Linked DNA regions of Homo sapiens. The protein of the gene in region 2 purifies or fractionates together with the protein of the main gene of each other region. This does not show direct contact. Each region holds a gene or a part of one and is shown on either strand. Other genes may lie near its edges.

Region 1 (3,493 bases), on a different chromosome or scaffold from region 2:
ATTGAGCACCTACTACATCCCAGGCCATGTGCTCTGAGCTTCATTTATATTACCTTGTTTGATGTTTATAGCAAGCATGTGAGATAGGGAAGGGAGGCTGACAGAATTTGGTCAATTTTTCTGATAGATACATATGTATAGATATGCATATTTGTGTGTATGTATGTGCACACACATATATGTATGTCAGCTATACTGAAAAGTTACATACACTTAAAAGTATTTGTTTTGTTTTGACTTGGAAAATAATGAATATTTGCTGTGGAATAACAGGACAGGGGAATGAATATAAAGAAACAGACATGCCTACCATCCAAGGGGCATTAGTATGATTTAAAAACATGACTTTAAAGCTTTGGAATGACACTTTCTGCATAGACAAAGATTACGGAATTTTAGCAACAACTTTCTTTCATTACGTTTTCATCTTAATTATTTTGACATGAGAAGCAAGAGAAATGTCATAAAATTGGTACTATTAAATCTAAAGTATGACCATATAAAATATTGGTCCTCATATTAAACCTATAATTCACGTGATAATCTTCATAACAGTCAGATTTTAGCATACAGCAATTAGTTTAACTTGAAATAATCTGCAACAGAAAAAGTAGCCCAGATAAAGCAAGCTAACAATATAGTTTTATTCTTGCACTTACTGTCTGAATTTTCCTTTTCAGTAATAGATTTACCTAATAATGTTTGAATCTGACTATTATAAACCTACATACTATACAATCTTAAATACCTGCATAATCTTTCATAACCAGATAACGATGAGGAAGTTGGATCTCAGTGCACTAAATGAAAAAAAAAATTCCAACAGGGTAAAAATATATTACAGATTAACCACAAAACTGGATAACTAAAACAAAAAATTCAAATTAGACTAAATTTGATTGTATAAATTTAGGTCCTTGATAAGAATACAAGTTAAATTTAATATCAGTAAAAAGTTGTTTAGGATTGAAGTTGAGCCTGAATTTAGGAAGAAATGTCCTTATGTAAGATTTCTAAACAATGTTTATGAAAAATCTTCTTATTCTAAATTGAGAATTTATGATCAATTCTCAGTATTCAAGAGCTGGTGAATTGGCTTTGTGAATTGTTTGTGGGCAGCGATGCTGTTGGAGAGAGAGATAAGGACTCTTCTAGCTGTGTAACTAAGGTTGCTTGCTTTGCATTCAGGCATATCCAGCTACATCCTCCTGCACTTCAGTTGCCTCATCTGTTGAGAACAAGAAATTGATTTGAATTCAAGCTTCCCAGACAGTATGGGTAACTGCACTGGGAGATATTGGTCACCCAAACCTTTGAGGCTGGAGCTCTGGCCTCCTTGCCTCAGGCCACGTGGGGTTCCTTTGGTTTACTCCAGTAAGCTGTGCAAACATTATTTTATCTGTCTTTCATGATGAGGAGATGGCTAGGAAATATTGATTTAAATGACCACTGGGCTCCTTTCTCCCTCTAATGGTCTCAAATTCCCAGGTTCCTTCACCTGTCTATTGCTCCACGTTGGCTGTATCTGCTCATGGGTGAGCAGAGAGTGGAATTGCCCTAAGGTGCAAATAAGTCATGCCTTCTCATAGTAGAGCAAATTAAACATGGGATTTGTTTAAAAGTACTTGAGCTATTCATTTTATTCATGTTCTGTTTCAAGACTGCCCAAGACACATTCATGTACTTGAACACAAATATCCAGGAAGCGATAATTATAGAAAACTATGTATCTCTGTAGCTATTGTTTTATCTATCACTTGACCATATGATTCTAAATTATCTCTGAATTATTTTTACAGATTGAAAACAAACTGACCTTTCAGAATCTAATGGAATGGACCAATCCAAGGCGAATGACCTCTAAGTATGTTGAGGTATTTTTTCCTCAGTTCAAGATAGAGAAGAATTATGAAATGAAACAATATTTGAGAGCCCTAGGGCTGAAAGATATCTTTGATGAATCCAAAGCAGATCTCTCTGGGATTGCTTCGGGGGGTCGTCTGTATATATCAAGGATGATGCACAAATCTTACATAGAGGTCACTGAGGAGGGCACCGAGGCTACTGCTGCCACAGGAAGTAATATTGTAGAAAAGCAACTCCCTCAGTCCACGCTGTTTAGAGCTGACCACCCATTCCTATTTGTTATCAGGAAGGATGACATCATCTTATTCAGTGGCAAAGTTTCTTGCCCTTGAAAATCCAATTGGTTTCTGTTATAGCAGTCCCCACAACATCAAAGAACCACCACAAGTCAATAGATTTGAGTTTAATTGGAAAAATGTGGTGTTTCCTTTGAGTTTATTTCTTCCTAACATTGGTCAGCAGATGACACTGGTGACTTGACCCTTCCTAGACACCTGGTTGATTGTCCTGATCCCTGCTCTTAGCATTCTACCACCATGTGTCTCACCCATTTCTAATTTCATTGTCTTTCTTCCCACGCTCATTTCTATCATTCTCCCCCATGACCCGTCTGGAAATTATGGAGAGTGCTCAACTGGTAAGGAGAACGTAGAAGTAGCCCTAGGGATCCTTTTTGAAACTCTACAGTTATCGCAGATATTCTAGCTTCATTGTAAGCAATCTAGGAAATAAGCCCTGCTGCTTTCTAGAAATAAGTGTGAAGGATAAATTTTCTTTGTTGACCTATGAAGATTTTAGAGTTTACCTTCATATGTTTGATTTTAAATCAGTGTATAATCTAGATGGTAAAAAATGTGAAATTGGGATTAGGGACCAACCAAAATATTTCATTAATGCTTTCAATTGACAAATTTTGGTCTTTCTTTGATAAGACAATATGTACATAGTTTTTTCAAATATTAAAGATCTTTTAACTGTTGGCAGTTGTTATCTACAGAATCATATCTCATATGCTGTGTAGTTTATAAGTTTTTTCTCTATTTATCAGAATAAAGAAATACAACATACCTGTACAGTGTGATTGTTTTCCTCTGACCAATTGTAGGACAACTAGGGCTTTCTTTGTTTTCTAGGCAAAGCAAGCAAGCAAGCAAGCAAGCAAGAATTCTTTTATAATATGTTTGATTTGATTCAATGTGGCTCGTTTATTACACATAAAATTGCTTATACAGATATATAGACTGATGAACTAATTTTAAGCAGTAGTATTTAAATTCATGAGGGAAATGATTTGTGTATATGAATATTTATAATAAGCCATCTGTAATTTTATAAACAGAAGAAAAATAAATTGAGAATCAGTAGATCATGCTGAACTTACTTATGAGTTTGTAAACAATGAGTCCATTGAATTATATTTTCATCAAAAAACACTTTTACCTGAATAGGAACTGTATAAATCAATGATAGCCTACTGCATGTCTCTGCAGTGCTTAATACCAGACCTGGCAGATACCTAATTTTCAACAAATATTGTGGAATCTAAAAATATGATATAAATGAGTAAATATGACATGACTTGAAATATGTAGAAAATCTCTTGACCAAAATAATTTAACCACTAACC
Region 2 (3,766 bases):
CTCCCTCCTTCAGTGATGCCACCCCCTGGTTATCCTCATATCCCACAGGCACTCAGCACTCCAGGAACAACGATGGCAGGTAAGAGAGAGAGAGAGAGTGAGTGTGTGTGTGTGTGTGTGTGTGTGTGTGAGCACTCCAGGAACAACGATGGCAGGTGAGAGAGAGAGTGTGTGTGTGTGTGTCAGTTATTACCCAGAGTTTAATATTGAGAAGCATGTGTGTGTGTCAGTTGTTACCCAGAGTTTAATATTGAGAAGCGTTAGCTTTCCCGATGGTGAATGAGGCTGCCTCAAGGAGTGAACTCCCTGTTAAGAGGGGCTAGGGGACAATGTCTGGACAGCCACTTGGCACTTGTGCTAGCAAAGGGATTCAAGCATCAGTTGGAGTTTGGACTGTAGGACCTGAAGTCCTTATTAGCCCAAGATGCAATGATTCTACTTATTCTAGTTATTTATTGTCTTGCCTCTCTAAGAAGTCCTGGGGTCATAGTTGAGGGTGTTTGACAGGACTTTAGCAGGTTTTAGGAACCTACTTTATTAGCTCCTGTAGATTCTGCTTCATTCATTCCTATGGAGTTCCCCCAGCTATAGTTTCCAGGGAAGTACCTTGTAGAGAAGGTAAATTTTAGGTGTTAAGTGGTTCATACACTTTTCCCGCTGGGTTCTTGAATGCAGGATTCATTTAGCCAGCGGAATACGGCACATTGTTAGAGCTGGAAAGTATCTTAAAGATCACTTAGGATAATGGAGGCTCTGAAGGAGAAATGCCTTGCCCAGGCCACCCAGTTTAGTGAGTGGCCAGATCAAGACTCAAGCCCCAGTGTCTGGATTCAGAGTCCGTTGTTTTTCTCACATACCACACAATCCTTTACTTAGGCTATTTGAGGAAAAGACATAAAGGTAATGGGGTTGGGGGTGGATTTAAAACCTTGAAGAACTGTGTGGCAGACAGCAGTGAGGAAGGAGTTGGGATCAAGTGATATGTCCTTTGCTGAAGGGGGAAGGAATGTTAACCTGTTGTGAGTGCTTACTACTAATTTGTAAGTGGCACCATAAGGTGGTAAGGCTCTGGAGCCAGATTGCTTGTGTTTGAATCTTCATGCTTTGCCACTTAATGGCTGTGTGATATTAGGCAAGCTACCTAACCCTCCTACCTCAGCTTCCCTGTTTGTAAAAGGGGCTAATAAAACTACCTGTGTCCTCGAGTTGTTAGGATTGAATGAGAATCATGTAAATTAGTGCCTGACCCACATTAAGGAACTTATAAGTTTTTTTTAAATGGAGGCATTTTACCTATATTGTGATATACTGAAAACCTTAGCATTAAATAATTGTACAAGAAAATATTTCAGGGCATATGAGAAAAATGAGTAGCAGACTACTTGAAATTTTGTAATCAGAGTACTAAAAAAAAATCCAGTAAAACTTCCACAACAGTTAAAAGGATATGTATAATTTGTAATAAAAGAAAGAATTCTACAAGTAAATATCAACCTCTACTTTTAAAAAGCAGCTGGTTTAGAAGGGGGGGGTCTGTCAAGATACGGTGGAGACACAGACCCAATGAATCAAAATTGGGGAGCATAAACAGCACATGGCCAAACTGGTACAAGAAGAGCATGGGAAGGTGGGCATTCTGTACTCAGCTGTGGTTCCTTCTGGTTTCCTGTGTTCCCTTGTTGATGTCCTCTGTGTTCACTTGACATTACTTGGTGGCACAGAAATTAGCTTGCTGGGGAAAATTCAGTATGACGTCATTGGTGCACTGCCATCATTATCCTGTTTACCATTCTCATGGGAGCCAATTCATGTTACTGAAACAACGTATTGGAGCAAAACAGACTGTAAGAGCAGTGGCTACATTGGCACTTTTCTCGTGTCTTCCTTACTGCAGCCTGGTATAATGGAAGGAGTGTGGATCAAGTGAACTGACCTCAGATCCTATCTTTGTCCCCTACTGGTTGTGTGACTTTGGGTAATTTACTCATCCTCTTAAACCGTATCCCCTTACCTATAAAATAAGGATCATAAGAGCCACTTTTTGAAGGCTTATGGTTGAATTAGTGAGATAATGTGTGCCTGGCATATAGGAAGTACACAGTAGGGGTTAGTTTATTTCTTACTTTCTTCTCTACCCAAGTCGCTGCTATTATTGCCTCTTTCCTTCCAGGCCATCACAGAGCCATGAACCAGCAGCACATGATGCCTTCCCAAGCCTTCCAGATGCGGCGTTCCCTGCCTCCAGATGACATCCAGGATGACTTTGATTGGGATTCAATTGTGTAGGGCTTGTTTCTGCAAGACACCAGACCCTAACGTTACCTTTCTGTGCAGTGAAGGGAAAGGTTTAAGAGAATCCAGTTGAGAAAACAAACTTGCTAATCACTTTACCAATGTTATCAAAATTACTTTTGAAGACAATCAGAAGGATTTTAGCTGGATAACTTACTGCTTTTATCTGACCCAAGCAAGTACTACATGTTTGTCTCCCTGCCAGCTGCCCTATGTAGCTCCTAACTGTTGTGTGATTTGGACGGCTTTTTGCATATTTGTGTCAGTTTGATGTTAACCACAAGTGCCAGACTGATTTTTCAGACGGAGCCTATTTTGCTGCAAGCAGTTTATATAAAGATACATATGTGTAAATATATGTACAAAAATTACTGAAAGGCTTCAGTTTTTTCTAATTGGATTATTATGTCTTGAAAGTTATTGTCAGTTTTTATTCCTTGTTAGGCTATTTTCTGCAGGATGCTTTTAACTGATGTAGGAAACTGAAAGGAAATAGATTTTTTCCAAAACCCAGTTCCCCTTATTTAATCTTTTTTAGAAATGTGGGTAATGAATTCTATCTAATAAGTCAAGGAAACCAGAATTTGACACACTCCAACAATCCGAAGGGGCATGTTGCTCCTGAGCAGCATGAAGAACTGACCAAATTGGTTTTGATGCTTGGGGGATCATAGAGTATTTATGTCTGCTTTTCTAAATCTGCATTATAATAGCTCTAAAATTTGTTGATTGGTAAGAAATTGGGCATTGCTTGGCTCTTTAAACACATCAGTGCTTCCACATTCACCTATGTATTTATTATTCAAAAGTGTCATTTTAATATTTATTGCTACCTTCTGTGAATGCTTAGCTCCTGTCGGGTTCATTAAGGAGAAATGTGTCTGAAAGCACAGAACTATTATTATTTTTTTCTTTTTTTGAGATGGAGTCTTGCCCTGTTGCCCAGGCTGGAGTGCAGTGGCACGATCTCGGCTCACTGCAACCTCCGCCTCCCGGGTTCAAGCAATTCTCCTGCCTCAGCCTCCCGAGTAGCTGGGAGTGCAGGTGCACACCGCCATGCCTGGCTGATTTTTTGTATTTTAGTAGAGATGGGGTTTCACCATGTTGCCTGGGCTGGTTGCAAACTCTTGAGCTCAGGCAGTCTGCCTGCCTCAGCCTCCTAGAGTGCTGGGATTACAGACATGAGCCACTGCGCCTGGCCCAGCGTTACTTTTCTTGATAAGAATTTACAGATAAGACACTCAGAGAGACATTGTGTCATTCTCTATCATCACTCCTTTTACCATGTGAATAGATTTCTCTGTCTTGGCATTCTTGCTGATTCAGACTTATTAGTTAAATCGGATTTTTCTGGAATTTGAATCAGATTTCATTTGGGCAACAACAGCAGGGCAGGGTTTCTAAAGCAGGTTTCCCCACTCATCTAGGTTGTCTTGAAAGGAGGATAGAGCCACTTACAGTTTTATTTGCTTCA

Evidence for each region. The genes of interacting proteins can lie anywhere in the genome.
Region 1: the proteins of FOXJ3 (region 2) and SERPINB7 purify together in Homo sapiens (affinity purification with mass spectrometry; one large-scale study listed by BioGRID and IntAct). This does not show direct contact.

What each region holds. Positions count from the first base shown.
Region 1 is NC_000018.10:63,802,438-63,805,930, forward strand, and holds the end of SERPINB7 (serpin B7), read left to right. Parts: intron 1-1,799; coding exon 1,800-2,198; 3' UTR 2,199-2,933; downstream 2,934-3,493. UniProt on the Homo sapiens protein: Might function as an inhibitor of Lys-specific proteases. Might influence the maturation of megakaryocytes via its action as a serpin.
Region 2 is NC_000001.11:42,178,230-42,181,995, reverse strand, and holds part of FOXJ3 (forkhead box protein J3), read left to right. Parts: coding exon 1-79; intron 80-2,170; coding exon 2,171-2,286; 3' UTR 2,287-3,766.